4 linked regions of the Homo sapiens genome follow. The protein of the gene in region 4 purifies or fractionates together with the protein of the main gene of each other region. This does not show direct contact. Each region holds a gene or a part of one and is shown on either strand. Other genes may lie near its edges.

Region 1 (8,049 bases), on a different chromosome or scaffold from region 4:
TATTCATTCACGAGAATTTCTTGAATGCCCACACTAGGCGCTGAGCTGATAAACTGGGGTCCGTGGCCTGGAACCCTGCTGAGTGTCCCTGGCGGCCTTGCCACAGGGTGCAAATCGCGTTGAAGAGTGGACCAAGGGCTACTTGAAAAGGCGGTTGCGGAGAAAGAAAATAGCTTTGATAATAAGAATTAGTAGTTTAGGCAAGTCTTTGAGCCTATCAAGTAATTCATCAAGAGGAGAAGATAAGTTATTTTGAGAAGCGAAGCCAGAAAAATAACACAGGTCCTTGACGCTGGTGTTCGTCCTCGGATAATAGGGCTGCTTTGGAGACAGGCAACAGTAGACTGGTAGAATCGTTCTATTGCTTAAGGCTTTGATGGTGGAAGAGAAAAAACACTCTTGTTGAAGTGGCATATCCAAGAACAGTGCTTTCTTTCTGGTTTAGGATGGAGAAGGAACTGACTGCTGTACCCAAGTGAAGATCTTTACTCAGTTACCCTTATATTTGGCTATATGGAATAAAATTGTGTGATATGTTTATTCTGAGCAGGTACAAAACTTCAGCAAACCTATTGGTCCCACATTTTCCCCCCCATTTATCATATGATTTGGAGTGACCGGTTGACCTTTGAGTTAATGAATAATTTAAAGCAGTGAAAAATTTTTTGCAGTAAACTACGGTGTTTTAACCTTGATAACATAAGCATAGTGGTTAAGATTCTAGGCTTTGTATCTGAACATACCCAGAGTCACATCCATTTACATCTTTGATTTTGGGCAAGTTATTTAATCTCTCTGCCTCAGTTCTCTTGTCTCTAAATTGGGGATAAAAATGTTTTCCTGATAACAGTACCTTTACGTGTAATGGTTCATGTATCGTATTTATTACAGTGCCTGTTTTATGGTAAATATTCAATACATATTAGCTGTTTTTATAATTAATTCCTCCCACTACATCATGATCCAAACTGACTCTTTTCTTAAGTGATGGGGAAGGGAACTGAATATTTTAAGGAAGTAGCTATAAAATATGATTTCAAGTTGTTCTGTAGTAATTTTGGTGTTCCATAAGGACATTTTAATGTGAAAAAGATACTGACAGAATCTATACATGGTTTGAATTTATTAGTTTCTAAACTATGACCAGTATTAGCAGATTTAAAATTCATAATTATAGCAAGAAAACGTCAAAGTTGTTTAACAGTGTTAAAATTTGAAACTGTAATGATCCAGAAAAATGAAATACCAAACCGATAATTTTGGGAAAAAAACAAAACTTGAGTGGCATTATGCAGGCCATTTACTTTTTAAATGTACTCAATATAAACAGGAATCCCTTCTCTCCAAATTTCAGTTTTTCAGAATTTGGGCTGTCATTTGAAACACTTACTTTGGGCACTTTGACTGTTAAAGAAGCAAAGGGTATGCTAAGAACTTCAATGAGTCTTGATGTTAGTGTTTTTGTAATTAGGTGGAATCTCCTACCTTTTCATGAAAACTGGGTTTAAAGCAGTAGCTGCTGGGTCCATTCTAATGATAATCTCAAAAATGTGACTGACTTGTAAAAATCTACAATTATTTATTAATGTGAGACTAGGTAAAGTATGAGTTGAAAAACTAGGAAGAAAGGCAGAGTGGTGATTTTTAAGCTTGTATAAAGGAAGGCCCGCTTTGGGTACTATGAGGTACCTTTCTCACTCAGAGGCATGCTGTGAGGATTTGTGACTTTTAAATCATTTAGCTCTTTTTATAACTTTGTGGAATTAAATCTACCACGTATTTCAAGTGTATTCAGGATATGAATTTTCCTGGTAGAGAGTTTTAACAGATTTTTTTCTCTTAACCCTTCATTGATGACCAAACAATTTTGTTGTCTGTAATAAGAAAGTACTCGGTTTTGTAGGGTGTCAGTCCTTAAGAAAATGTTAGGTAGTCATCAATAAAATAGCAACAATCTCTGGCTTGTTTCTTTTTCATATTGCATTTAATTTTCCTTTCCCTGTCTCTTATTCATCTGTATATGTGATGGTGCTTTCTTTAGCTTATGTCTTGATGTTTGCCTGCATGTAGCTGAACTGATTGATCCAGGTGGGTAGAGGAAAAAATATTTAAATTGGTAGTTTTTGGAGCTATTGTATATTTCTTTCAAATTTGAAGAAAATTTACAGTTTTCTCAATACCTATGAGAAAAAGACTGGGGTTTGTTGGCAGAGTTTCGCTTAGCTGCTAGTGAATTATGTCCAGAGAGAAGATCAGCTTTCATCTCATTAATTCCACAAATTGATCATCTCATGTTTCCCTTAATTATCACATTTTAAATATTTTTCTTTTGAGTCATCACACAGTTCTTCAGTTCACATGGCCTCCCTATCAGGAAGGGAGTGGTTTAGACCCAATAATGGCATTTGGGTGGGCTAACATTCACTCCAGGATTTTTTTTTCTTCCACAGCCTAAATTTTTGTAGAGCCAAGATCTTAACTAAACTTGGGGCAATTGGCTAAGCAAACATATAACAAGGATGATTATAGCAGCTCTTTAAAAGAGCAATAAAGTAGAGCAATCCAACTGTAAAGATTAGTGGGGAAATGGATAAACTGGTTTATTCATGCAATTCAATACTATCTTCTCATAAAAATGAATGAGCTAGATCTATACTTACCAACATATATACATCTCAAGTATGTAATACTGGGTGAAAAAAGCAAAATGCTAAAGGATTTATACAGTAAGATGCATTTGTGTACACTTTGAAAGCAACATAATAGCATGCATTATTTATTGATATGTGTATATCTAATGAAAGTACATAAAAGTAAATATGAAAACGTGGGAATGGGATACATTAACTTTAGAAATAGTAACTAATTCTGAGTGGAGTTTCTTCACCTCTGTAACTTATTTTTTCTTGTGTTTTAAAAAAGAGCTGAAGCCAATATGAAAATATGTTAATATGTGTTAAAACTGGATGATGAGTACATAGATTTGTTATTTATTTTTACAGTTTTATGTATAGTTAAGATAGTTTGTGAAACTAGCACTTTAACATTTTTATTTATAATCAGGACTGTTTCCCAATATGTTTGCTTTATTTTACTTTGTACCCTCAAATTAGGAGACTGTGGAAAAAGAACTCTTCTTTCCCTGCAATAAGAAAGGAATGTGCCAGTGCAGCTCCACTATGTAAAGCTTTTCTAAGGAGAGGAGACAGACCAATTATTTGGTCAGTTTTGCTTTGCTGTTTGTGCTCCTGGGAAAATGCTTTCTTTAGGACATGAAGCCTGCAGGGGAATTAACATTCTAGAGATGCTTGGGAAATGTAGGCATATACCAATCATGAACTCTGGAAGTATAGGGGAGCAAGTTGTATAATAAGGCCCTCAAAGGAATTTGGACATGTTGTGACTCAGATACAAAATTACTACAGATTTGTGTAGTATTAGCATTAACACTTTGAAAAGCTTAACTTGGTTACATTTTATTACAACGTAGTTATCTTGAGTTTATACCTTGAATGCAAGTATCCCAGTTGTTGCTCAAAGAAAATAGTTGTCTCTATAGATATTAGTAAGTAACCTGATGACAATGTGTTAAATGGTTGACTAATGAATAATACGTTTAGTAGCTGATCCCTAATGTAACCTCAGTATTTAAACTTGTGAGTTAAACAATATTTTTATTTCTAATAAAGAGAACCTGCTACTAGCACTATTAAAGCAAGTGAAACTTGTATCACGAGAATAATATTTTTTAGTATGTGTATTTCCTGTTTAGTTATGTGGCCCCTGAATGATCCTAAGCACTGTTATCAGTTGGTGAAAGAAGTCATCATACTTTGAACTGTAAATCTAATATTGCCTTTGAAAAAATTGTGGCCATTTTAATAAGAGAGTAGTTGCAAATATTAACGGAATAAGTAGTTTGTGTCAGGACTTACCAGGACATTCACTGTACCATGTAATAACAGGCACAAATAGTGGCAGTACCTGGGAATTTGAAATTCATTTGTTAGTATTATAATATTCATCACAATGCATCATGGGATTATTATTTAATAATCCTGAAAAATGTGTTTAAAATATGCAGTGGGTACAAAAAAGAGCTAAATGGGCATTGCTGGGAACTTATTGTACCATGTTTACACACTTTCCCCCCACTCCACCATGAATAATTTCCGATTAGAGGATCGTCATAACCAGGAGAGTGTAGTTTCAGTAAGTTTCAGCATGAAATTAGCAAGGCATTAAAAAAAGACTGTAAAGTCTTCCTGTTTCTCATTGCACCAAAAGCTGTCTGTGTACTAAGGAGAAAGGGAGAAAGGAACACTTCTCTGAGTTGTTTAACCATTTTTAAAGTGACATGAGATAAAAGTGTCTTCATTGTTAGGATATACCTTTAGCAAATTATATATGAGAGTTTCTATTAGGAGAAGACACTTTTTTCTTTTGTATCTGTTACTGACTTTTATTACAGGCACTAGAAATCTATAGCGTGGAAGTCTGTGGATTGCAACTGAAAATCAGGGGCTGTATCTTTCACTCAAGCACTCACTTAAATGTAACCAGCTTGTTCAGAATGATTATTATGGGTACAAGAGTATACCGGTGAATAAGTCATAGTCTCTGACCTCCAGGAGCTTAAAATATATTTTGAATCAGTGACTTAGTGCATATCCTATTAGTAACAACATTATAACTAATAAGTAGCTTTCTAGGCCAGCCTACCGAATATATCCAATGCCTTAATTTACTGAATTCTCTTACTCTGAGTCAAGATTTGAAGGCTCATTGGCTCCCATACTGGTATCAGGCAATGCTTTCTGTGCAGCAGTTAAGGCTGAGAGGCGTGGGGTTCCAAGTGGCCTTCTTGGTGGTTAGTTGGCCAAGGCTTCAGTGCAAGGTGAGTTTTCCTCAGCCTTCCACAGTGGTTGGGAAGGCTTCAGTGGCAGGATATCCAGGAAGTAGCAGTTGTTGTTGGTGTATAGATTATTTGTAAGTCAGGTGTTTGAGTCAAAGGTTACCATAATCCATGTGTAAACATTGACCTAGCCTCTAAAAGCAAATTATTTATTAAGCATTTACCATGTGTAAAATACCAGACTCTGTTATTGTTTACTGCAAAGTGTAAACTCTGGTTTACTACATTGTAATAATATGTAACCAACTCAGACTTTAAAAAGGAGGTGTTAATGACTATAGGAAATTGATGGTAATTTTGTATCCAAATCACTTGTCACTCTACTACATTGTAATAAAATGTAACCAACTCAGACTTTAAAAAGGAAGTGTTAATGGCTACATGAAATCTATGGTAATTTTGTATCCAAGTCACTCAATGTCTATATTCCATTCAGGGCATTATGATACAGTTTACTCACCTATTATTTTTATTGCCTTTCTATCTGAATGTCTTGTCATTCTAATCACTGATTAACATTACTCTTATAACTACAATTATTACTGTTGTTTTACTATTTTAAACCGGTAATTGAGACAGGAGAATAAGACTAGGAAGGCCCAGTTTTGCTAGTGTAAATTAGCTTTCTTATCCCTTAAGGGTACTGTCTAACTCTATAGAGAGCCATTATTCTAATGAGAAAGAGAACATACTAGTATGGAAATTTCTTAAGGGCAGGAAGTCATGTATTTACAGATGTTTATTGAGTACCTGTTATATATCAGGACTAAGCTGCTGGGATGTACTAGAAAATACGATATTTGTCACTCTGCTTCCATGGAAATTTTAGACTAGCATAATACCTGGAACATAGTAGATGAAAAAAAATACATGTGGTTTTAGTGGTTGAAATTTAAGCATTTGCAAGTTATTATACTTATGACTCACAAATTTACCTTTCACCGAATTAAGCCAAAAAGACTTTATCCAGAAAATAGTTGAGTAGAGATGAATACATAGGATCCTGCATGATTTAACTTTCTCTTTGCATTTGGGATAATACACTCAACACATTTCTCTACCACATTTAAAATTTTTATTTATATCCTGCCTTCTTCCCAAAAGGATTTAAAGCAGCTTACAAAAATGTATAGCAGGGTGGGATAAAATAAAGAAACAGACTATACAACATGCATACTGTGAAGTCCTCTTCACTTCCAGGTACCATCATATGGAACCCTTATCCTCCCACCACAAAATGTATAATTCTGCTTATATCTGTACCTGTGATCTCTCTTCTTTCAAAAACGTAGACCTTTCTTCTTATGAAAAAAACAATCCCCCCACATATATTCTGGATGGCATCCTCCTTCACTTTGTCTGGGACTTTGGCTCTGCCCACTGTCCTCATCATCCTTGTATCCAGGACCACAGCCTTTGTCATGCAGACATATTCAGCTTCCTCCCATCTCCCCAACCTCCAGCAAAAGAAAACCCTTCATTTTCACATTCCCCTTCAGCTACTGCTCCATTTCTTTGTTTGCCATTTCAACATTTTTCAAAAGGATCACCCACTGAAAATAAAGATATTTCCACATTGTCACCTCCTGTTTATATTCAGCTTACTTCAATCTGGTTTTCAGTGCCCAAACAAACCACTGAGATTGTGGCCATGCTCAGCCGTTACCTGTGTTGGCAAATCCAATGGACACTTTAGTTATCTTACAAGACCCCAGCTGCCTTGACCTAATTGACGTCCTCCCTGAAGTGCTTTCCTTTGCTTTCATGTGCCCACGGCAGACCACTTCTCAGTCTCAGTCCTCTTTGTCCGATCCTCATCCTATCCAACTTCCAGGCGCAGGAGCTCCTTAAAGCTTGACACTGCGCTTTCCTTTCTCTTTCCATATACCCAATGACATTATCTATTGTCTTGTTTTTAAACACTATCCATACGCCCTCCCAAGTTTAGCAGCTGCTGAGACTTTTCTCTTGAACTCCATGTTCATATATTCAGCTATTCACTTAATATGTACTCTTGGGTTTCTCACAGACATCTTGAACTTAAAAATAAATTTTATCCTACCAGAATCTTATCTTTGCTTCAGAATCGTATCTCCCTCACTCTTGCCCATTTCAGGAAATGGAGCCACCAACACACAGCTATTTGAGGCAGAACCAGGGATCATTTCTGATACCTGCTTCTCCTTGGTCCCCCACCTTTGTCTAATCACCAAGTACTAGTTGTTCTGCCCCCAGAGCATCTCTCATTTATTCACCTCTTCTTCACCAAATTGGCAGCATTGTATGAAACTTAAGAACCCAGGCTTCCTTCCTCCATTGAGAAGATGAGCCGATGGAGTATTTGCAGGCAGGATATTCCTTGCAAAAATTCATTTTGGTGCTCCGTGAGTGTTCACCATAAAATTGGTTTAAAACTTTTGAAACAAATGTAAATCGTCATTGAAATAAATCATTGGCCCTTCGCATTGGCTCACGCCTGTAATCCCAGCACTTTGGGAGTCCAAGGTGGGCAGGTCACAAGGTCAGGATTTCAAGACCAGTCTGGGCAACATAGTGAAACCCTGTCTCTACTAAAAATACAAAAATTAGCCAGGTGTGGTGGTGTGCACCTGTAATCCCAGCTACTCGGGAGGCTGAGGCAGGAGAATCATGTGAACCCAGGAGGTGGAGGTTGCAGTGAGCTGAGATCATGCCATTGCACTCTAGCCCAGGCGACAGTGCAAGACTCCATCTCAAAAATGAAAAAAAAAAAAAAAAAAAAAATCATGAAAGCATCCATAGACTGTCCCACTGGAAGCAATGCAACTCCCCAGTGTACTCTCCAAAATGAAGTAAATGTTCAAAGTACATAAAAGAAACCAAGTTAAGTATAAAATAGTTAAAAGTTTTGAGACTTCTACTAAAAAACGATAGTTGTTTTTGAATATAGATTCCTGGTCCTTTATTCAAAACCCTTGGGGCAAGGTGCATTTTGGAATTCAGATTTATGTTTTGTTCTTTAGAGTAAGATGCATAAACTATATATTATATAACACTTCCTGTGGGATCTGTGGTGCTGCCCTATTCATACTGATATTTCTACAACACGATGTATGAATATTCACACTAAAGGGATAAAAGTGATAAATAACCTC
Region 2 (8,049 bases), on a different chromosome or scaffold from region 4:
GGGAGGGGAGAGGAGTAGCCACTGTGTTCACCGTGTTGCCGTGTTCCAGGGCTGCCCAGTGGCCGGATTGGCCAGACTGTGTTGCATCAGGGAGGCAGAGGCCAGATGTAGGGAACTGTGTGTCTGAGGACTTTGTGCCACGTCCTGGACACCGAAGGGAGTGCCACTGGTGTGTGAGTGATGGAGTAAGAGGTGGGCTGTGTTTTGGAGGCCCCTGGGTATGTGTGGCCGGGACTGGAGGCCAGGGACTGGCTGTGGTCCAGCCCCAGCATGCAGAGAGGCCTGGGACATTCTGTGTGAGGGGAGGCCCCTCTGTGTGGGAGGTGCACAGACTTCCAGGACTGACCATGGCTTTATTGTCAGGATGCAGGAGCCAGGGCTTGGCATGGGGCAGGTGTGGGGGATGCAGAGCAGGGCCAGCAGGCAGGATGTGCTGATGGGGGCCTGGCGTGAGCAGGACGGTGCCTCCCAGCCCTGAGCCGCAGGGAGTGGGCCACCAGGACTGGCTGGGGGCCGGGGTAGGGAGGGCCCTGGGGAGGGTGGACATCTGTGTGGGTCTTGAACATAGGATGCCCATCCGATGTGCAGGGCCAGCTATTGGTTGGGCAGTGGGGACATGGCCTGGGGTCTCGGTGGGCGATGGCCTGGAGGGGCCACCCTGAGCAGGACATTTGGAGGAGTGCTGGGGTGAGTCAGACAGGACCATGTGGTGGTTTTCTCCAGTGCAGGCAGTGGAGGGGGAAGGCGGAGCTTTGCAGGTGAGGGCTTGAGGCAGTTCCGACTTCAGACTCCCCCCCAGGGAGACTGAGGGACCACCACCATCATTACTCAGGCCAAGGAGGCCCAGAACAGGGCAGACGGGGCTGCAAGAGTTCCTATGGCGATAGTTGTTGGGGCACAGGGTTGGTCGGATTTGAGGGAGGGAGGGTATGAATCTGGGAGTCGTTGGTGCGGTTGTACCCACCTTCACTTTCCGTCCCCAGGCTGCGCCTCTCCTGAGCTGCCGCATTCTCCCCTGCACCTGTGCGTCTGGCCCTCTTCACGTCCTCCTGGCCTGCTGTCTGCCTCTCCCCTGCACCTGTGCGTCTGTCCCTCTTCATGTCCTCCTTGCCTGCTGTCTGCCTGTTCTCAGAGCCCCTCAGCCCTCAGGCCTTCATCTCTCCTGGCCCATCTTCCTACTCTGACGCTGACATGTAGTAAAAGTCTGAAGACAGAGAAGAGTGCATGTGCGTTTAGCATAGGAGGGGCAGCTTTCAGTCAGTGCAGCAAGGGCATGTAGTTGTTCAGAGATGGTGCTGGAACGACTGATTTGGAGAAAAGAGGCCCTTCTTCACACCATCTGCTAAAATAAACCTCAGATGGGCTCAAGAGTTAAATATTTAAGAAAAGGAGGAAACAAAAAAATTGCTACAAGTTTATTTGTTGTTAGGATGGGAAAGGTTTTTCTAAGAACCAAGTTCATAATGAAGCTGTCAAATAAAATACTTGACAAAAAATTCCCCTTCATACATTAGCACAGCTAAAAACTATTAAATGGTAAATGCAACTAAAGAATTGCAGCTAAAGAATTGTGTGACGTAAAGAGTTGCAATAAGAAAAGCATAAGATAAAGGTAACCTCATGGAAGGTGAGCAGGGACTAGAAAGGCAGAGAAATGCCAGAGGCCAGGAGCTTGAACGTTGTTCAATGCCACCAACAATTTGAAAGTAACTGTAATAGTTTTGACCTGGGAAGTTGGCTGAGCAATCCTCTAATATCTGATGCTCCCGATGCTGAGGTTGTGGGGAAGTGTGCACCGCCATGCCCTTTTTTTGGCAGTGTAAATTGGTAAAGCCTTTTGAAGGAAAATAGGGCAGAATAAGTCAAAGAGCATTAAAATTTTTTTGTTTTTCCAGAAGCAGCAAAGTTCTGAAGGAGACGCAAGTAAAGATACCACAGGTGTCCTAGATTGTCAACAGACCATTTAATCATTTTTGTTAACAAAGCAGGTGACAATTGAGCCCTAATTTGCGTTATCATTAGTTGTTACAGGATCTTGCTTGTTCTCCTGAGGCCACGCCACGATTTCCGAGAAGCAGGTTGCACACTCAGCAGTCTCCCACTAGCCAGTGGCACTGCAGGTGCAGGGGCTGCCTCCTGGACCTTTCAGGACGCTTTGCAAGGTCACTGAGGATCTCCATTGCACATTTGGTAGAATTAAAAGACTGCCAGACTCAGTCTTACTGTTGTTAGTGTATTCGTGCTGTCAATATGTGATGAGGACATATTATATTCCGTTATTCTCTTTAGCTCAAGGAAGAATAAAGAATTTGGACCAAAATTACAACCACATTATGACGAATTTTCTAAGCAAAAGAAACAAAGTAACTGCTGAGGTTAACAAAGATGTAATAATTCTCTTCACACAGCCTTGTACTGTTTTATTGACTGTATTATCACAAATCCTGAGCTTAACGAAAGTCTTTATAAGTCAGCTCATGAAAACAGGCACGTGGCCAGTAAGAATTTAATTTCATACCAATAACACTTCAGACTTCGGATGTATTTAAGGCTGTTTGCACATATTTATAGAATGTGTGGTGTAGATGATGGGACAGCTCCCCCTCAGCAAGACTCTGGCCTAAATGTATTTGCTTTATTTACACAACAAGAGGATAAGCGTAAACACGGGCACTTTCAGTTTGTGGCACTGAAGGACGATCTACACAGGGCACCCTGCAGAGGCCACAACCAAGGCCGCCTGGCTTCCCAGTGGGACAGGCCTAAGGGAGGACTTCTGGCCCCTTTGCTTGATGTTCATGTTTTATGCCTTGATATTTCTTTTTGGTTGCATTCCCTGGAGCTCATGTAGATCATTTTACTTTTCAGAGGTGCTAGTTCTGGTGCCCACACGCACACACACAAAACCATCAACTCTTCTGGATTCCTTGGTTTTAAAGCTTGCCTCATACAAAGTACAGAGACATCTTTTTCAGGAAACATTGCCACCACATGCTTGAAGGACCGCTTATGGCTACACTTAGACATCTCCAACCAAGGTCTCTTCACCTCCTTCTACAACAATGCACTTTGTCTGCACTGGGACAAAAAATGACAGCCTTTTTTCTTTTCTTGTTTTTTTTTTTTTTTGGCGTGGAGCATTTCCGAACTTTCACGTCATAAAAAATGCAGCATAGTTAATCAGCAGCTTGCACTTCTGAGGGCACATTCACCTCGGGGGAGGAGGAAGGAGGAGGAGCTGGTGGGTGCTGAGACTGCAGTGTCCTCCTTCCCAGCAGCTGGACCCAGAGACCAGGCACCAAATTTTTTTGATGAAATTATCCTAAGGAAATAATCAAATTTGTACAGAAATTTATGTTAAAAAATGTTCATGGCAGCACCGTTTAAAATGGGGAGAAAATTGGAAACAACAGAATTGTAGCAATACATATGATCATTAAAAATTATGTTTTAGAAAGATTTTTAACAGTCTTTGGAAAAAGTTGGTGACATGTTGCTAGTTTTTAAAAAAAGTACAGAGTATGTACAGTATGATTCCAATTTTGTGTTTAAAAATTAGACATAGTGGTAACCTAGCTTCAGTTCCAGATAAGATGGAGAAGGCATACTCCTTTCATGTCTCCCACTGAATGCAGCTATAAATCCTGGAGAGTAGACAGGGAGAAACTATTTGAGGACTCTGGAACAAAGACATAGTAGCAATCGACTGGTGAAGAAGACAAGAATTTGAAGTACGGTCAAGTATCTGTGGGCTCCACATCTGTAGATACAACCTACATGTATTGAAAATATCAGAAAATAAAAATAACAATACAACAATAAACATCAATACAAATAACACACCAATACAGTATAGCAGCTACTTACATAACACTGACATTGTATTAGGTAGAAGTAATCTAGAGATGATTTAAAGTCTGTCGGAGGATGTGTGTAGCCTGTATGTAAAAACCACGTTATTTTATATGGGGGACTTTAGCATCCAAGGATTTGAATATCCACGGGGGTCCTGGAACAAGTTCCCCATAGACACCAAGAAACAACTGTATTCCTGAAACAGTCTTGAGTTATCATTTTCTTTCTTCTCCCTCTATGTATGTACATAGAGTGTACATACATAGAGTGAGAAGCAAAGAAGGTCCATGAAATGGACCAATTCTTTTGAAAACTGCAAATTACCACAGTTCATCTAACATGAAATAGATAACCTGAATGGTCCAATAACTAGTAAAGATATTGAATTAATAGTTTAAAAACCTTCTGAAAGGTAAATCTCTACCCTAAATGATTTCACTGGTGAATTCTATCAACACATTTAATGAAGAAAAAACTCCAGTTCTAAACAACTTTCAGAAAAGAAGAGGGAACACTTCCTCACTCATTATATGAGGTAAGCATTGCCCTAATACCAAAACCAATGTTAACACAAAATATGAAACCTACAGACCAATAACCCTCATGAACATAAATGTAAAAATCCTCAAGAAAACATTAGCAAATTTAAACCAGCAGGATATAAAAGGAATAATAATACACCATAACAAAAAAAGAAACTATCCTTGGAATGCAAGGCTGGTTCAATATTTGAAAATCAATCAGTGTAATCTACCATATTAACAGTCTGAAGAAGAAAAATCATGATTATATCAATACAGAAAAAAATTGACAAAATTCAACATCAGTTCATGATAAAATTCTCAGCAAACTAGAAAGGGAAGGAAATTTAACATGACATAGGACATCTACAAAAAAACCTACAGAAAATCCTAAGGAGTCTATGAGAAAATTTCCTAAAACTAGTAAGTGAGTTTAACAAGATCACAGAGTGCAAGGTCATCATACAGAAGTCATTTTTATATCTTAGCAATGTACAATTAGAAATTAAAGAATATCACAGTAGCTTCAAAAATATGAAAGGCTTAGAAATCTAACAAAATGTGATCTGGATGCTGAAAATGATGAGATGATAATGAAAGAAACCCCAGAAAACCTAAATAAATGGAGAGATAAGAAGGCTCAACCTAGTAAAGACGTATGTTCTTTTTAAATTGATCTGTAGACTTAATAAAATTCCAATTAGAATCCAAGCAGGATTTGTTCTTATAGATAAGCTCATTATGAAATGTATATGGAATGTAAAGGAACTAGTGCTATGGTTTGTCCCCACCAAATCTCATGTTGAAATTTGATCCTCAGTGTGGTGGTGTTGGGAGGTGGGGCCTAGTGGGAGGTGTTTGGGTCATGGGTGTGGATCCCTCATGAATAGATGAATGCCCTTCCTCGTGGGTAGATAAGTGAGTTCTAGCTCTTTCAGGTCCCAACAAGAGCTGGTTGTGAAAAAGAGCCTGGCACGCCCACTTGCCTCTGCTCCCACCCTGTGGTCTCTGCACGTGCCAGCTCCCCTTTGCTTTCCACCGTGAGGGGAAATAGCCTGAAGCCCTCACTGGATGCCCAATCCTGAACTTTCCCAACCAGCAGAACCATGAGCCAAATAAACCTCATTTCTTTATAAATTACCCAGCCTCAGATATTCCTTTTTGGCAACACAAAAATGGACTAAGAGAACTAGAGTAGCTGATAGAATTTTTTAAAAGAAGGGTAAAGTTGGAGGAACTATACTACTTGATTTTGAAGCTACAGTAATCAGGACAATGTGGTGAAGGGACAGACACGTAAGTCAATGGAATGGAGACGAGAGATTTCTACAAATATGGTCAATGGGTTTTTTTTAACAAAGGTACAAAAATCAATTTAATGGAGAAAAGACAGTCTTTTCAGCAAATGTTACTGGAATAGTTGTCATCCATATCTAAAAAACAACACCTCAACCTCACATCTCATACACAGCTGAACTTAAAATTGATCATAGATCTAAGTGTGTGAAATGTAAAACTATAAACCTCCTTGAAAAAATCATAGAAAATCTTCATCACCTGGACTTGGGCAAAGACTTTTTACTCTAAAAGCGTGATCCATAGCAGAAAATGTTGATAAATTGAATTTCATCAAAACTAAAAATGACTGCTCTGCAAAAGGATGATGCTAAGAGAATAAAAAAGACAAGCTAAGATTAGGAGAAAATATTGCAAAGAACATATCCAGTGTGTGTTCTGAATATACAGAGAAATCTCAAAACTCAACAGGAAGAAAACAAGCCAATTGAAAATGGGCAAAATACTTGAACAGACACTTTACCAAAGTGGATATACAGATATCAAATACACACATGAAAAGATGTTCAGCATAGCCATCAGGGAAATGCACATTAAAGCCACAGTGAGATATCACTTACACCCATTGAAAAATGACTACAATAAAAAAAAAATCTGATAGTAATACCAACTGTCATCGAGGATGAGGAACAGCTGAAAGTCATGCATTGCTGGAGGGAACATGCCACTGTGGAAACAGGTGGGTGCTTTCTTATAGACTTGTATGTGCACTCACCTTATGCCCAGGAGTCCCTCTCCTGTGTGTTCAACCCAGAGATATGCAAGCTGTGTTCACACAAAAACCTGTATGTGAATGATTATACTAGCTCTCTTTATAATTGCAAAAAAAAAAAAAACAAAACCTGGAAACAACCCAAGTGTCCTTCATCTGGATAATCCTTAAGGATAAACTGGTGCGTCCACACAGTGGAATACCACTGAGCAGTGAAGAGGAGCCAGTTATTGAAACAGGTAATTTGGAGGAACCCCAGAAACGGTACAGTGAGTGAAAGAAACTTGTCTTGAAAGGTTATGTACTGTTTGGTTCCATTTGTATGATATTCTCAAAAAGACACAAGACCATGGGGATGGAGACCAGATCGGTGGCTGGAGAGGCTGGGGTCGGGGAGGGCATGACCACCAGAGAAAAGGGTGAAGAGTGTTTTGGGTGGCAGAGCTGTGTGTATGCTGGCTGTGGTTGTGAGGACAAAATCCACACAAGCGCTCAAGTTCGTAGGCTGTACGCCAGAAAAGCTGTTTCACTACATAACTGAAAAAATAAGATTGAAAAATAAGATGTATATATTTTTTGTGTGCGTGTGTAGAAAAATACTTGAAGGTAAACTGCAGAGTGATAACAGTGGTTCCTTCTAGGTACTGGGTTAATATGTGATTTTTATGTTTGTTTGAGCTTTTCTAAGTTTTCTACATTTTCCGTACAAAACATGTATTACTTCTGTAATAAAAGCAGCTTGAGATTATTTAAGGAAGCAAAACACTTCTGTTGTTTCTCATCAACTACAGGATGAAGTGCAGGCTCCCTGGGTGGTTTGCAGGGGCCACAGGCCTTGGCCCCACCTCGCTGGTGCTCCCTCTACTCCTTTCTGTGTTTGAAGCAAGTTCTGGTTCAGACAGAAAGCCTGGCCTTTGAGGGCGTTGGGTCCCCACTTCCTCAGTCATAGATGTGATGTGCTTCCCTTGACTTGGGACCTTCTGAGGGATGCAAGGTGGACCAAAGGACCCGTGAATGGCCAGGGCATGCCTGCGTGGCTTTCGGTTTCTTAAGCAGTGATTTCAGTCCACTTAAAGGGTGTGAAAATTCTGAGAATGCTACGGACCAAATATATTTTATGTAACAGTTGGGACCCGGCAACACTTCAGGGCTCTTTCAAAATCTGGTAGCTACGAGCTCTTCCGTGACTGAGATGGGACAAGAGTGAAGATTTGTCCTTGCTTTTAGCTCTGCTCCAGTTCATAGTTCTAATGGGAAATTATGTGACTTAAACCCAGGCTGTGAGATGCATCAGTGACGTGTGGGCATAAAATAAACCCTCGAGATGTTCTCTTGCATGGTACACTGGCCTAGGCAGGAATATTCTTGAGGCTAAAACTGTAGAACTGTCAGACTAGTGTTACGAATGTGGTGGTGAGAGGCCTGTGCAGCCGCGGGGCCTGTGATGTGTCTCCTGTGTGTCTTTCACTCCTATGCAGTTTGAGTTCATGATCGAGTCCATCCTGTATGCCCGGGATGCCTGGCTGAAGGAGGACGGGGTCATTTGGCCCACCATGGCTGCGTTGCACCTTGTGCCCTGCAGTGCTGATAAGGATTATCGTAGCA
Region 3 (8,049 bases), on a different chromosome or scaffold from region 4:
GCAGAAAAAGTGAACCACAAATCAAAGCACAGGGGAGTACTAACATGCAAATTTAAACAGTGTCTCCTCTTATTAACTCCTCAGCCAATAGGAGTGGAAGAATATTAGTTTCAGGAAAGGATGTCTGTGAAATTGCTACTAAATCAAACCCGGGGTTGGAAAACTAACAAAGAAAGATCGCAACATTTCTATATTTTTTCCGTAGAAAATTCAAATAATAATAGGTGTTGAGAGAGGCCAAAGTTCCTTTTTGTCTGAGTTTCACTGTGTGCTGAGGAGAGGATCAGGGTGCAGGGGAGGGGTGGGAGATAGTGGCTAGATAAGCCTTGTACCCAGTATTTGTCAATACAGGCATGGCCATGCAGGGTCCAATGCCAAGGAGCAGCATGTTGGACATTTGGTGGGCTGGAAACACCACACCAGAACTCTCCCTGGGACATGCCCTCTGGGAGGTTATAGGAGGTGAGCCTTCTGCTAAGTTCCTGCATCTCCTTCCTGGGGCATCCTGTAACCTCTACTGAGCACTGGCACCCATGATACAGACACTCCTGCTCCCAACATGCTCCCAGTCTAAGGCAGGATACAAACCTAGTGAAATATAATCCAGGGTGCTGTAAAACCTTGGATGTAAAGGCAAGAGAGAGAAGGGAGAGTAAAGCTAACCTGGCCGGGTGTAGTGGCTCATGCCTGTAATCCCACTTTGGGATGCCGAGACAGGCAGATCACGGGGTCACGAGATCGAGACCATCCAGGCCAACATGGTGAAATCCCGTCTCTACTAAAAATACAAAAATTACCCAGGTATGGTGGTGCACGCCTATAGTCCCAGCTACTCCGGACGCTGAGGCAGGAGAATCGCTTGAACCTGGGAGGTGGAGAGTGAGCCGAGATCATGCCACTGCACTCCAGCCTGGCGACAGAGCCAGACTCCGTCTGAAAAAAAAAACAAAAACAAAAGCCAAAAAAAATGCTAACCCAAGAGGGTAAGCCTATGGAGGAGGGGATATTGGAGCTGGCCCTTTAAAAATGAATAGGAGGAGGCCAAGGAAGGAGCATCACTTGAACCTGGGAGGCAGAGGTTGCAGTGAGCCGAAATCGCGCCACTGCACTCCAGCCTGGGCGACAGAGTGACACTTCTTCTCAAAAAAAAAAAAAAAAAAAAAAAAAAAATTGAATCGAGTTTCCCTGGGCTGTGAAGGAAGGCAAACGACCCTGTGGTGAAGGGAATAGCCTGAGTCTCAGCACAGACCTGGGAAAGAACACAGAAGATTCTGGAAACAGCTAGTGGTGTAGATGGGCTGGAGAGTTGGTGCCTGGAGAATGTTATGGAACCTGAAGACCTGGTCCACTGAAACAGGGCTGCTAAATACTCTGTCTGAACAACTAGAGAACAATTCCATGCATAGGGCTGAAGTTTAATAAAATATAAATATAGTTGTGACAATAAAACACTTTATGGTCCCTGAAATGGTGCTATATCAGCTAGCTAAACATAGCGCTAAAACCTTCATAGAAATGCTAATGGATTGCTATTCAGTTGCTAAATATTTATATGAAGATAAAGTTCTAGATGCTAACCATTATATAACACTACAGATTAACCATAGTCTGTTGATACAATTGTGGGGAGTAGAGGTGTAAGGATCAGTATTCTGGAGTGTTGTTTTCATTCATTCATTCATTCACTCGACAAACATTGAGTATTTACTTTGTGCCAGAAGGCTAGCGGTGAAAGGACAGGTCTCAGAAAGGCAGGGTTCTTGCCTTCAAGGAACTTCCAGTCTAATAGTGAAGACACACAGGTCAATCAAAGAGTGCCTTAAAATGAGATGGACTCTGAACACACATTCTGTGCATAGTGGGCACACACGAGCCGGGGGCAAGATAATGCTGAGGACTGAGAAGTGGACTTCAGAAATGAGGTGGTAGTAGAGATGACTATTGAAAGATGAGTTGGGAACAAAGGCGTTCAGGGAGAAAGAGCACAGGAAGGGCAGGCCATAGCTGCAAGGCCATTTTTGGACAACTGCAAGTTTTTCTTGAACAAAATATGAAGTGGGGGTGGGGGTGTCTTTTAAATTTGTAAAGTATTCACAGTTGGTCAAGCTATATAATTACCTGGCTGCCTGCCAAAAAAAGAAAAAAAGAAACCACCTGTGTGTGCATGCTTTTCAGCTGGCTGTAGGATTTAGTCAGCTGGCAAGTGTTTATTGCGTGCCCATTATGTCCATATGCAATAAAAGGCATATGGGGAAGAAAGAGAAGAAGAAAGCAGGCAGAAACTCAAATATTGTGAAAAATGGATTGTTTCGTGTTGAGTGCCAGCTACAGTTGTGGTTTCATCTGACTCACTGACCAGCAGACAATGCAGCTATTGTGGTGGTGGCTGGTGCTACAGTCTCGTGGCACCCTTGGTGCTCTTGTGCTGCAGGTCTCAGCACCTGTTTGCATAAAGCTGCTTGATTGAATCACAGCTTTGATAGGAACAGTTTTACTTTATCACCTTAATAAAGAATTGTCATTGCATCAAAAGGCAAACTGGAGATCTTCCTCCTACTGCTGCTGCTGAACTTCTAGCAACGCAGTGTGGAGACAGAAAGGTGTGATGCCTTTCCTCACTCATCAGGGTCACAGCTAACACTCCTATCACAGGAGACAGAGTGACAAGAGAAAAGCATAACAAATTTAGTTAATCAAAGTTTGATGTGACATGGGAGGCTTTCAAAATGAAGATCTAAAGACTCAGGGAAAAATGTCTGATTTTATGCTTAGGTTTGATGAAGAAAGGATGGGCGTGTAGAAATGTGATTGAACAAAAGGGTATGAGTCAATAGTAATAAACTGAAACAGAAACCCAGCAAGGCCTGTCCAGATTTTTTGGGCCTCACTGTGTGGCATTTCTTCCTCCTGGGCAGAGGGCAGGACTCCCATGAAATAAGGTTTTCAAGGGAAAAGGGAGAGAGTGACCTTTTTAGGTTTTATGATTTGCTTTGGGGCGGAGTGGTTCTGGTTTCTGAGACCCACCTTGGGGAAAGGAATTCTGTTTTCCATGACTTGCTTCAGGGGAAAATGCGAGAGGGTCAGAAAGACCTTGTTTCTGGCTGATATCCTACAGCCAGCTGAAAAGCATGCACACACAGTTTTTTTTTTTTTTTTTTTTTTTGTCAGGCAGCCAGCGGCCTTTCCTATGTTCCCATGTCTAGTTCAAAGTACTCAGCACACCAATGTGCCGTACTTTGGGGTATCTTATTCCGAGCCCCAACAGCAGGAAGAAGACAGGATAGGCATAACAAAACTGCCTATGGGGTACCACTTACAAGCCTCCAGGTAGTTTCCACTTCTGTAATGTCCACAAAAAGCCAAGAATTCCCCATGGCACTTTTTGGGAGAACTGGGGTGTAAAGGAAGGGCCCCTGTGAAGCAAAGCCATGAGCAAAATGACTGGGAATGCTCTACTTCATCATTATTAAAGGCAGACTGACTTGAAAGCTGGGTATTTTTTGGAAAAGTGCTAATTGTGAATCCTCATCTTACTCTGTCCTTCACCACTGACAACTTCTCCTCAGTCCACGTGGCTGCCCAAACTCTCACCTCTGTGTGTAGACAAACACAAACCCCACCTTCCTGCCAGTGCTTTAACCCACATTCTGATCTCTTGCTTCCTGTTCACTGCCAGATTTCTTAGAAAAAGGTATCTCTACTTTCCAGCATCCATAGGATAGCATCTTGCTCTTGTCATGGCTAACCAACACACAAGAAAAACCCACTCCTTATGCCTCTCTTTGTAAAGTAGCACCAGGAAAACTTCCTGTGATGGAAGTCTTGAAGTATCAGAGTCACAATCTCAGAAGCGCTAAGGACTAGCCTTATACAGTGAATTAGAATTCAAAACCCCAAATGGAAAGGCTGAGGATCAAACAGCAGTCCTAAATATGAGTAGTAAGGGAAGGGGAAAAGCTAGTTTGGGGCAGTATCCCTTAAAGCATATAATAGGGAAGATATTAAAATTCAGACAACTGAGACCACAGCTAAATTCTGTAACATATAACTCCATGTTGGTAAGCCGTCCATGTGGGACTAGGGTTCTAGAATGATCTTGTACAAGGTTTTAACCTCTTAAAGGCAAATTGCCCAGAGACAGGAAGATAGAAAGATGGATAGCAAGAAAGAGATATATGTTATCATATAGAAAATTGTAAAAGGTTTTTATGATTCATATAAAAATAATTCCTTAATGTCTCTGAAGAATTATACTCCATGGGTTTCAAGGGGAACGTTGACAAACTGGGATGGCTTCCAGACCCTTTGCACATATTCCCATTTGTCAGTGTGCTATGAGTCCCGGCCCGAGAAACCAGGCAAATGATCTAAGTCCAGAAAGCAGCAGAAGAGGTTGGGTCCCTCTTCTGTCAGGAGCTCTTTCCTCCAGACAGAGAAGCTAGCACTTAGCAAACCACTTCAGGCTCTCTAAGGTAAGATAATGGAGCACAGAAGGAAGGGACTCCTGCATCTCAAGGCATCTTTCTCATTGTAGGGACACAGTATTTTCCATCTCATGAAAGAGGAAAACAAGAAAGGAAGAGGAGAAGCACAGGGTGGCAAGGACAATCTTCTTCTGCTATTAAAGCAGTTATGGCATTGATTCCCCTGCATCCTTAACTCCGCAGCCCCAGGTGCCCTCTGTCACACCACATGCCCTTCCCAGGTCCTTCACTCAGTCTGGCCTCCCAGGTGGTCCATTCTCCAAATTCACTTATTTCTCCAATCAGAATATCAGAGACCAGTCCTCAATTGCCAAAACACATACACTAATCAACACAGCAAACATAGAAAAAATGAACAATGACAAGCAGAGATAAGAATAATACAATATTCTTATCCAAATGTGAAGATTTGACCTAATTCTCCTTGTGGTAGAGGAATTCATTGTTGAGGATTTTAAGATCACATAGGAAAAGGAATATGGAAACCGTGGACATGAATGAACCTATAAGAGAGTACTTTAAAGTCATTTTGCATGCCAAAAAAGTCAAACAGCACACAAAATTAATAAATAATAGGTAATAAAGATATCATCAGAATGTTAAGTTTTTTGGCCCCATTATACTTGGAACACAATGAAAAGTCATCACTGTGACCGACAAGGCCCTACTTGAAGTGCCCCCTCTGTACTTACCCAAATTCACTTTAAGCCCTTTCCGTCCTACCTCTCCAGGCTCACAATGTGCCCCACATGTTATATGCTGGCCATCTGACAGTTCCTAAAACATAATGAGAACTTTCCTGTCCTAAGGCCTTGGAAATTACTTTCTCCTGGGCCTGAAATACTCTTCCCTCTGTTGCTTTTTTGTTTTGTTTTGTTTCTATTTTGACAAGTTGCAAACATATAACAAACATCTGTGTTCCTACCACCAAAAATTAAGTTATTTATATATATAATATATGTAATATATTATATAAATATATATTTATATATAAATAATATATAATTTATATATATAGATATAAATTATATATATATAATATATATATATAGCAGTGAAACAGAACAAATGTGGTATCAGAGCCACAATCTCAGAAGCATTAAGGACTAGCCTTATACAGTGAATTAGAATTCAAAACCCCGAATGGACAGGCTGAGGATCAAACAGTAGTCCTAAGTATCAGTAGTAAAGGAAGTGGGAAAGCTAGTTTGGGGCAGTGTCCCTTAAAGCATATAATAGGGAAGATATTAAAATTCAGGCAACTGAGACCACAGCTAAATTCTGTAGCATATAACTCCATGTTGGTATATATGCTATATATATATAGCAGTGAAACAGAACAAATATATATATATATATATAAAAATATATATATATATATTTATATATATATATATATATATAAATATATATATATATATATATTTCTCCCTGTACCCAGGTAAATGCCTGCCATGTAACAGTGCCAAATATTTTGTTTTCTGATTAGCTAGATAAATTGCTGATTTAATTTCAGTTTACTGGGTTTTGTTCAAAATGCTCATAAATTTGCTTTATTTCTTGTGGATTATTGCACCTTTATTTGCTCCTCCATCTAAATATTCAGTGCTTTTTTCCCCTTATTTTTGGGGCTGCCAATTCCCATAGCCTACTAGGATCCTGGAGATGGAAAATACCTTGAGTATTTGTGGTAGAGCTTTAGATCACCTTTATTTGACCTGCTTATTTCACTAGAGCTGAATAGCATTTTTAACTATACCCTCCCCCAACCCCGAAAAGGCAGCCTTAGCTCAGCCTATGAAAACCGTGTGTGTAATCACATTTCTAACATTTGACTTACACCTCAGTTCTGATTCTTCTCCATCTCCTTTGCTGGCACTAGTCTTCTAAATATTGGCATTGCCTAGGTCCCAGTCTTGATCATGCTTTTCCTTTTCCCCTATTTTATCTTCCTAAGTGATCTCACCCATTCCTGTGGCTTTAAATACCAAATGTGTGCTGCTGGCTTCCAAATACATATGTCCAGGCTTGACCTATCTTTAAGCTCCAAATCTGTATACCCAATCCCCTACTTAACATTTTTACCTGAATGTCTTACAGATAAAATAAATAAACCATTTTACTAAGTCCAAAATGAAACTTTTGATTTTTGCCCCTCCTCTTATCACCACTCACAACCAGTTCTATTCCTAATCTTCCCTATGTTGGTATGTTGCGCTACACAGTATATAGTACAATGCCCTCTACATCTCTCAATGGGTGTTGGCCCCATATAGTACTGTATTGAGTATATCAAATATTGTAAAATCACCCACCCACCTGCTCAAGCCACAGAGCCATCCTGGGTTCTGACCCATTTTTTATCCCCCATCTCCAATTCTTGAACAAGTGTAATGTTTTTTTTGTTTGTTGTTTGTTTTTTGTTTTTTGTTTTTTTGTGAGATGGAGTCTTGCTCTGTTGCCCGGGGTGGAGTGCAGTGGCATGATCTCAGCTCACTGCAACCTCTGCCTCCTGGGTTCAAGTGATTCTCCTGCCTCAGCCTCCTGAGTAGCTGGGACTACAAGGCATGAACCATCATGCCCAGCTATTTTTGTACTTTTAATAGTGATGGGGTTTTGCCATGTTGGCCAGGCTGGTCTTGAACACCTGACCTCAGGAGATCCACCCACCTCAGCCTCCCAAAGTGCTGGGATTACAGGCGTGAGCCACCACATCCAGCCCTGAACAAGTGTAGTGGTTTTTAGCTCCAAAATAAGTCTTGAATCTGCCTACTTATCTCCAGTTCCACTCTTAACACCCAAGTCTAAGCTACCATTATCTCTTGTCCAAACCAAGGCAACAAACTCCTCCCTGCTACCAGTCTTGCCAGTCTTGCATTTTGAAGAACTAATCTCTACATAGCAGTGAAGGTGGACTTTATAAATAAGAAACCTATAGCGTCAATGCCCTCTACACCTCTCAGTGGGTGTTGGCTCCATTATACTTGGAACACAATGAAAAGTCATCACTGTGACCGACAAGGCCCTACTTGAAGTGCCCCCTCTGTACTTATCCAAATTCATTTTAAGCCCTTTCCGTCCTACCGCTCCAGGCTCACAATGTGCCCCACATGTTATATGTTGGCCATCTGACAGTTCCTAAAACATAATGAGAACTTTCCTGTCCTAAGGCCTTGGAAATTACTTTCTCCTGGGCCTGAAATACTCTTCCCTCTGTTGCTTTTTTGTTTTGTTTTATTTCTATTTTGACAAGTTGCAAACATATAACAAACATCTGTGTTCCTACCACCAAAAATTAATAGTTACTAACTTTTTGACATTTTTCCTTGGATTTGAACATTAACGAAAGAACAATATAAAGGTAAATTCTCCTTGTTCTGCCTGTGTTCCATCCCCCTTTCTCCTTACTCAGAATGAGTAAGGGATATTGCTGGTTCCTTACACTACATACATTTCTTCCTTCCTTCTGTTTAGCAAAACCTTGACTTTGTTAAGGCATTCACACACTGCCCACTCCCACCTCCACCCTCTGCCCCAACACCCTCATGTGTTCAGCAGAGGCCAT
Region 4 (8,512 bases):
TTAACCCCCAGTCTTTTCTTCATATCTTTAGCTTCCAGCATGACGATGTGACTCTTTACTCCAGGGCCTCCATGAACAGCCCCAGCCCCTTTACCTCTCTTCTTGGTCCACTCTGCTCCAGCAACACCATCCTCCCTCTGTGGCCCAATCCTGTCAAGCATGCCCTCACCAGGGCCTCTGCACTTGCTGTCCCCTGCACCCGGGGCCCCCACTCTTCTCCTGGATAGTTCCTCCTAATCATTTAGATTTCTGTTCAAAGGTCACCTCCTCCAGGAAGCCCTCCTCACTTCCTGAGTGGCCACACAGTTCACTCAATCCATTCCCATTGGGCTCTCTATCTTCTTCATTTCTCTGTGTCCTTCTCCCCTGCAGTATCCCCTGAGAGCAGCACCCTCTCAGTGGTTCCCAGCACTGAGCTGGACATACAGCAGGTGCACCATGAACACTAGCTGAAGGCAGGGAAGTGAAGGCCCAGGCCTGGTTATGCGGCCTTGGCTGCATATCCCAGTCTTTCTGAGTTATAACCAGGACCTGCCCAGTGGCTTCCTGGGGCTGTAAAGGGTGGATAGATGCTACAGCATTCTTGGAAAATAGCCCAGTGCTGTGTGGGTCATTCATAATAACCATTTTTAATAGTGATCACTGCATGGCAAGAAAGGCTACCGGTCATCACACGTGCTTGAGTGAAGACTGGGCCTCCGGTTCCCTCCCTGCATCTCTCTCGGTGGGCTGGGGCTGCTCTTCCCTGGCATCCAGCCCAGGCCCACTGTCCAGCAGATGCTGATAACTGTGCCTGCAGAACTGACCCAGCCAAGGTGATAATGGTGAAGGCTCAATGCACAAGTTTCTTGGAGGTGTGTGTGTGTGTGGAATGTTCCAGGCCCAGTCCCACCAGTGTCCCTTCTTCTGTCTAGGGGAGACCCACCAGGGCTTCGCTTCCTTCATGAAGGCCCCACTGCAAGCAGCAGGTCAGGGCATCCCACCAGAGGGAGACCACTGCCTCCTGCGGGGGCCGGCAGGTCATCATGTCCCCCAAACAGAAGGAAGAGAGGGGTCGGGACAGTTCCAGGCAGTGAATGAATGATTGAACAGGCATGGGTAGGCGAGTGCTCCACTGGCCTGGCCAAGCAGCCCACATCTCACACACCACAAACTCCTCACAGCCTCACTTCCTGTGTTCAAGTGACAGGATGTGACATGCCCATGAGGACAGAGGGGCCCCTTGCAGAGATGATGAAAAGGATGCTGTAGTTACAGAATTGAGGGCCATCCTTCATTCAGACACCATTCATGAAGCTGCCAGTACAGCAATGACCTCAGGTGTTAGCAAGTTTGATTCAGGGTCTGATTCTTGGAAGCCTCCTGATGTTCCCCCATTGGGTTAAGAAATCTTCTCCTGCTTTTGTTGTCATCCTTTATCCCATCCAGTGTGCCACCTTCACGATGGACTGAGCCCTGACCGGGACAGAGTCTCGATTCCATAAAGCTCCCTTGGGTGCACACCAGGGGCCCAGAGAGTGGAAGTGGCGAAAATGGAGGCTAGGGAGTGAGGACAGTGGGGTGGGGGTGGGGGCCCGCCGGCAGGGCTCCACTAGGCTGAGGATAGCCTGGCTGTGCCATGCACAGGGCCGCTGGAGCAAGTCTGTCCCGATTTGACATGTGGCATGCTGGGGAAGGGACACCACTGCCAAATGTACGGCAGGAAACAGCTGTGTGACCCCAGTCAAGTTCCTTCCCCTCTCTGAGCCTCAGTTTCCTCTTCTGTAAAACGGGATCGACAGTATCACATTTTACAGCAGTTGGTGAGACCCCATGAGGCAACTAAGCATGAGAACGCTTTGCAATCAAGTTGGGCAGCTCTGATAGTGGCTACAGTGCAACTGTTGGGAAAGTTAAACATCTAGAGATGCTCAACACCCCATCTCCTTTCCACACTGAAAGGCAGGGTAACAATAAGGTCTGAGCAGCAGGTGCTGGGAGAGCCTGGGCCTAGAAGTGGGCCTGCCGCGGGTTCTGGGTGGGGAGTAATGGTGGGCAAACACAGGCTTATCAAGTGCAGCAGGGTAACCTCAGGAAAGGCCTGCTCTTGGTTACAAGATCCTTGCGTACAAACAGAGCCACCCCCTCCAAGTATCTTTGGTATTTCTGGTGCCAATAGGTTTGGTGGCAGAGCGGGGATGGCCTGGGAGTCACAATGCTCAGACTGGGAGCCTGAGAGCTGGAGAAGAGTGAAAAGACCCACAGAAAAGAAAGACAGTGAGCGCTAAGCCCCCTCGGGCCAGCCCCTCTCTTAGGCAGGAAGGCTAGACGAGCTTATTCCAGGAATCAGCAAATCCACCAGAGCCACGTGTTCAAATGCAGGTGGCTGGGCCCCCAACAGATTGAAGCAGACTCTCCAGGGAAGAGTATTGGAATCCATATAGAACATTGTCCCTGCAAAACTGCAATTGGATAGGCTTGGGCAACGCAGCCACAGTGAATAGCTGCATCACGGGAACATCAACCACACCTGGACATTAAAATCATCCGGAAAATGAAAAAGATCCTGAGGCTTGAGCCCTCCCCCAAACCTAGAAACCAGAATGTCTGGGGGTGGGACCCACACAGTTTTTTTTTGTTTTTTTTTTTTTGTTTGTTTCTTTAACTGCTCCTCAAGTGATTCCAGTATAGCTCCTGGGCTACAACCCCCACCCCAGGCTAGTATACTCCAGGGTTCCAGTAGAACTGTGCTGAGCCTCAGTTTCCCCATCTCTAAAATGGGGTTCTTAGTGCCTGCCCAGACAAGGCCTTTGTGAGGATGACATTTCTGAGCATTGGAGGCAAGCAGGCACTGGGCCAAGTAATCTGAATATGAATTGTCACATTTCATCCTCATGACATCTCCCCTCCCCGATGTAACAGCCCTGAGAGTTTAGAATTTCTCTGGCATCAGGCTCCTGGGCCCAGGCAAAGGTGTGGCAGGGAGGAGACAGCTGTCTCAGGAGGACCTATTCCCAGCCACTGGGGTGGAAGTTCCACGCTGGGAAAGGATTTACTATTTGTTTCAGAAAATGCAGCGAGGGCCTTGCCACAGGGAGTGAGAACTTTGGTGTGCTCTGCTCGCATCGACAAACCAACCTGTGAGCTTCTCCACTAAAAAAGCAAGTGAGCATCACAGCGAACCAGAGGCCACCGTCATCCCTCGAACCAGAGGCCACCGCCATCCCCCAAACCAGAGGCCGCCATCCCCCGAACCAGAGGCCACTGCCATTCCCTGAACCAGAGGCCACTGCCATCCCCCAAACCAGAGGCCACTGCCATCCCCCAAACCAGAGGCCACCGCCATCCCCCGAACCAGAGGCCACCGCCATCCCCCGTGGGTTGCCGCCTGGCACTGCTGACGCAGCAGAGGCAGAGGTGTGTTTACTTTCCCTCAGTGGAGGTGACGGGGAGCTGCCACTCTATCAGGGGTTCCACAGGCCCCTGCCATGGTAAGGGGCCTCCATCGATTAGGGAGGCCTTGGGGTAGCCCCCAGAAGGCTCCCCACATACTGCTCCAGGCCTCCTTTTCCTAGCCTTGCGACTGAGCCCAGCTCAAGAGGACTCAGCCATGCTCTCTAACCTCCTAAGGTCTGAGGTCACTGCACAGCCCCAAATGAGTGGGTCCTGGGCAAATAGTTTAGGCAGGTGGAGACCTGACGCTGGGCCTCAACCCCCGCAGCCGAGGGTCCCAGAGGAGGGCAAAGGTTGCTCCTCCTAGAACAGCACAGTGCAGCGCCCAGAGAGCTGTGAGGGAAGCTGGCATTCGAACCCCACTGCCCCCTGGGAAGCCTGGCTAACCGAAGCGCAGGCTTTGGTTTCCATAAATACCCGGGCCCGTGATGTCACCGCCCCGTGCAGACTTTCACAGCCTCTGCTGCTGGCGTGAGGCCCAGCACACAGCCGCTCTGCTGCCAGCCCACAGAACACCTGGGCACACAGCTGGACACTGATGCCTCCGTGCTAGGGACGGTGGGCTGGACCTTCACCTGCCCTTGGAGGACGCAGCATCCTGGCCACTGCCTCAGCCTGCCTGCGACCTTCTATCAGGCATGGCTGAAGGGCTGGCCATGGGCGTGCTGGGCAGAGATTCTCTTCCTAAACAGGCTATGGGCTAAACCAAAGCCAAAACAGTAGGAGCCGGTCTGGGCACCCTGAATGTGGATCTGGGAGGGGGGATACCTGCTCTCACAGTTGGGAATTTCACAGCCTGCTGAAGACCTGCTGACTAATAGCCTTTTTCTCATCGTCATCACCAACAAACACCTCCGCTGCAGGGGCCGAGCGCCGGCATCCCTGCTGGGTGGCCAGCTCCCTCTGCAAGTCACCTGCACATCCACCTGCCCCTCCCCCAACGATGCCCCTCACTCCAGCTCCCAGCTCAGCCGGGCCCCTCTGGCCTCTGGCTTCAGGCAGAAACCTGCCACATATACTCACAAATAGCGTCTTCTGCAAGCCATCCTGTGTGAATCCGTTCTTCCCTGTTCTGGCTCCCTCTCCAGCGGGGAGGCTCAACGTGTTTCCAAGAGGAGCAGGCGGCTCAGGCAAGAAGTGGAGGGGAATAAAATTAAATCGCGGGGCGAGTCACATTCCCGGGGGTGGCGGGCTCCTCCAGGGAGGCTGGGGCGGGAGCGGGGGGCGGCGCCAGCAGCGGGCTGTGGAGGGCCCTGGCACGTAGCGCGCGCTCACACCGTGCCCAGGAGCGAGCGAGGACGTCGAGTAACCGTGGTCGCCAGGCTGGGCGGGGGCGTCCACCTCGCTGCTACCTGGGCCCACCTTGGGGTTTTTCCCTCCCGTCCATCCGGGGTGCGGGGCGCGGGGATGAGGAGGGGAGGGTCGAGAGAAGGCTGCCCCGGGTTTGCTCTCGCAGCATCCGGAGAAGGGGCGGGCGCGCCGGAGCCTCCCCCACCCCCCGCGCCCAAGGAGCAACGTAGTGCGGCCGCGCCGGACCAATCGCCGAGGCGCTGGTCGCCATGGCAACAGCAGCATCAGGCGCGGCCGCTCGGCTGCGCCCTCGCGGCAAAGTCACACACCCGGCGGGGCGCGGGGCGCCGGCCCCTTCCTGGCCCGCGCTGGAAACCTGGAAGTCTGTTGCTAAAATGCACGCGCCGCGCGGAGCCTACGATGACACTACTTTCCAAGGCGGCTTTTCTGCCTTCGGCACTGAGACACGCGAGCCGCGGAGCTCTCGGGGCTCTGGCCCTGGAGTGAGGCCGGCCGACTCCAAGGCTGTCTCTGCCACTGAAGGGCGATGAGACCTTGGCAAGCCGCGTCTCTCCTGGGAGTCTTGATTATGCTACTGTGAAAGGGATCATAACAGCTATACCACGGGGTTCCAGGAGGGCGCACCACGCCAGTAGCTGCACGGTGGATGGCAGAGCAGTCCTCGTTTGTGCCAGTCCTGTCCCAAAGGGGGCTGCACGTGGCTAGGGAGAATTTCTGGTCTAGCTATGGTGCCTCTTCCTCTCCCGAGGACCTTCCATGTGCCGGGCAAGTATCTGCCCTCATGATGTTTACAGTCTAAGGGGAAGCCAGGAAGTAAGTGTGCAGATATAGGATTGCACGTGGTGATAAGGATCAGGATGAAAAGAGAGCAGGAAGAGGGGAGGCAGGGACCCCAAGAGAGGCGGGAAGGAGGCTTCTGCCATCAGACGGGGTGGTCGGGAAGGCCCTCTGTGAGGCACGTGTGGCTGAGACTCGGATGACGCAAGAAGCAGGGGAGGAGCTGGCGTCAAGGCTCTGAGGCGGAAGGCAGCCTGGTGTATTTGACTGGCCCAGAGGAGGCCAGCGTGGTGCAGTGTGCGACAGGGAGGTGGAGGGGAGAAGCGCACATCCATCCTCGGCTCCCACACCCGCCTTTCCCACACAGATTTCTCTCTTCCTGTCTGATGTTCATCTGATCCTCTCTGCTTCCTCATCTGTAAACCAGGAATCCCAGACCTATCTCAGAGGCATGTAGATAATATTCTTCCGTGCACGGTAATCCTCAAGACAACCCCAATGAGGCCTAATACTATCATCCTACTTCACGGGGGAGCGCATTAAAGCCAGAGGTTCAGCAACTGGCCCAAGCCACATAGCTGGCGGGCAGTCTGGCTCCAGAGTCTTGGTTCTTGACTGCTTGAAAGCTGCCTCACTGGGAGGAATAAATGAGAGAGGGAGTAGTTGAGACTGGGAATCGGCTGGATGTGGATGGCAGCCCACAGGGCCATTTCCCTTCCTCTTTCCATTCTCTCCAGATTCACACTCACCGAATTTAGAAGGAGTGATGCTGCATCCTTGAGTTCCATTCCATCCTTTACAGGGGAGGAAATGAACCTCAGGGGGTGAGCGATTTGCCTAAAGTTGCACAGCAAAGAGTGGCAGAGGTGGGACTAGGACCCCAGTCTTCCAGCTCAGTGTCCTGGTAGGGAGCAGAGGTTGGAGCTGCGGCCTCAGGTGGCCAAGGTGAGGCATCGAACAGAACTGCATGACGCTTCCCGATCTGCCCTCTCCAGGTGAATCCATATGCATGACCAATCTTCCTGTAGCACGGACCTCCCTCCCTGAGTCATGTGAGGAATTCATATTTCTGTGGGTTAACATGTTGCAGAGCCCACCCCACCCCTCTCCTCACTGGAGTTTCAAAAGATTTTAATAACATCAAAATTCAGCCACTGCATCAGGAGGGCTCACTTTGTGTCAGGTCCAGTTGTTTCATGGTCTCAGTGAATTCTCAGAAGCGCCCTACGAAGTGAACATAATTACCACTCCTGCTTAGATGGGTTGCACCACATACGGGGGTCTCCCATCAAGGCAGCAGCAGAGCCCAGACTAACTCACAGCCTGGCTCGGGCTAGAGCAATGCCCCTCTCAGCCGCCTTGCTCAACTAGCGATTCTCTTCTCACTTCCATCTTCCAGAGGCGGAAACAGGCTCAGAGTGGTGAATTGGATGCCTTGAGTGTGGAGCACCCAGTGTCCCTTTCCTGGGCTTCCTCTTTTGCTCCCTGGGAGGCCCATGACATGCATCTGCACATCCGTTGCTTCTTCAGCACTTCTTCTTATAAACGTACTCTCCTTTTCCTTCCATGTTATGCTGTTATTTCAAAGCAGAGGAAATGGCAAGGACCCTGGCATTCAGATACAAATGCCAAGATTTTAGGCTTTTACAAAACATCATTTACAGGGCACGTGGGTAGTGCCTACAACCCACCTGCACTGGCGCGGTTTTGATTTCTGACATTCAATATCCAGCGCCGGACCAGGCACAGAGGAGGCTCCAAAAAGCGTGGAGCTGGGATTCCGACTCTGATCTCTGACTACGGAACCCACAAGTTCATCCCTTCAGGCAGTGAGAGGTCAGAGAGTCTCAGAAAAGGGGCGCGCCCACCTGTGCAGGCTGAGCTTCACCTACCTCATGACCCCAAGCCCTCGACATCCAATCTCAGGGCAGATTTGTCAGCCACACCTCCCAGATGCAAAGCCTGTGGTCGTGAGAGGGTCCTGATCACATAAGAAGTGGAGCTACAGAACTCTGGATGGAATTGTCCACTTTCCTCACTTTCGCAGTTGTAACCAGATGTCTGGAGTGGGAAGCAGGGGCAGCCAGCCTTGGGGTTGCTGCCCTGTGACCCTGGTTATATCACAGAATCATCCACCCACTCACCCACCTCTGCAGGCTGGAGACTAAGGCACAGTGGGAACCTAGCATTCAGACAGCGTTTTCATCCCCTGGAGTTTCTGTAAGTGCCCAAGTTCACCCCTGCCCTTGCCTCATCATTGTGGACTGTGGGAAGCCGCTTGGATCAGAAGGTGAGAGCAGCTGCCAAGGGGTAAGTCCAGAAACATCTCACATCCATCTCCCTTCCCTCAACGGGAAAATTTCCACCCTGCAGGCTGGCAGGAACATTCCTGCAGATCGGCTCACTCCTGCAACCTGCGGCCATCTGTCCCCAAGGTGGGAGGAACATGACAGCATTTGGGAAGAGGGAGGACGGAGAAGGTTGGAGCATGCAGTCCACAGATCTGACAGTCACAGAGCTCTTCAAGGCAGGGAGCCCCGAATCCCAGGGATTCAGGATCTTCATCCAGGGCTGGGCAGAAGTGAACCCCCCACCCCCGCTGCTCCGTTCCAACTGTGGAACTGCAAAGCCGTCAACACTCTGACTCTAAATCTCAGGACCACACAGTCTTCAAGTCTGGGGACTTTATTTTCTTTTAGCTGAAGCTTCACATTTTAAAGAAATGAAATCCTAACTGCACAAATGATAAGAAAATGTATTCTCTTTAAACAAAATAAAGCCCCCTTTACCTCCCACCCTCCTAAATCTTATTCCCCGTTCCAATCTCTGCAGAGGTGACCGCTGTCATCTGTTTGGAGTGGATCCTTCCAGAACTTTTTCTATGCATTTATCTACATATATATGCCTATAGAAAATAGGAAGTATTACATAGACCCTAAAAAAAATGGCATCATTTTACAAATTTCTTTCTTTCTTTTTTTTTTTTTTTAAA

What was found.
Region 1: the proteins of IQSEC1 (region 4) and ALS2 purify together in Homo sapiens (affinity purification with a luminescence readout; one large-scale study listed by IntAct). This does not show direct contact.
Region 2: the proteins of IQSEC1 (region 4) and PRMT2 purify together in Homo sapiens (co-immunoprecipitation; one large-scale study listed by IntAct). This does not show direct contact.
Region 3: the proteins of IQSEC1 (region 4) and SLC2A12 purify together in Homo sapiens (co-immunoprecipitation; one large-scale study listed by IntAct). This does not show direct contact.

What each region holds. Positions count from the first base shown.
Region 1 is NC_000002.12:201,772,480-201,780,528, reverse strand, and holds part of ALS2 (alsin), read left to right. Parts: exon of another isoform or gene 1-550; intron 551-8,049. UniProt on the Homo sapiens protein: May act as a GTPase regulator. Controls survival and growth of spinal motoneurons.
Region 2 is NC_000021.9:46,650,823-46,658,871, forward strand, and holds part of PRMT2 (protein arginine N-methyltransferase 2), read left to right. Parts: intron 1-983; coding exon of another isoform or gene 984-1,184; exon of another isoform or gene 1,185-2,022; coding exon of another isoform or gene 2,023-2,232; exon of another isoform or gene 2,233-4,275; intron 4,276-7,922; coding exon 7,923-8,049. UniProt on the Homo sapiens protein: Arginine methyltransferase that methylates the guanidino nitrogens of arginyl residues in proteins such as STAT3, FBL, histone H4. Acts as a coactivator (with NCOA2) of the androgen receptor (AR)-mediated transactivation.
Region 3 is NC_000006.12:134,030,266-134,038,314, reverse strand, and holds part of SLC2A12 (solute carrier family 2, facilitated glucose transporter member 12), read left to right. Parts: intron 1-8,049. UniProt on the Homo sapiens protein: Insulin-independent facilitative glucose transporter.
Region 4 is NC_000003.12:13,068,537-13,077,048, forward strand, and holds the start of IQSEC1 (IQ motif and SEC7 domain-containing protein 1), read right to left. Parts: upstream 4,894-8,512; 5' UTR 4,479-4,893; coding exon 4,456-4,478; intron 1-4,455. UniProt on the Homo sapiens protein: Guanine nucleotide exchange factor for ARF1 and ARF6. Guanine nucleotide exchange factor activity is enhanced by lipid binding. Accelerates GTP binding by ARFs of all three classes.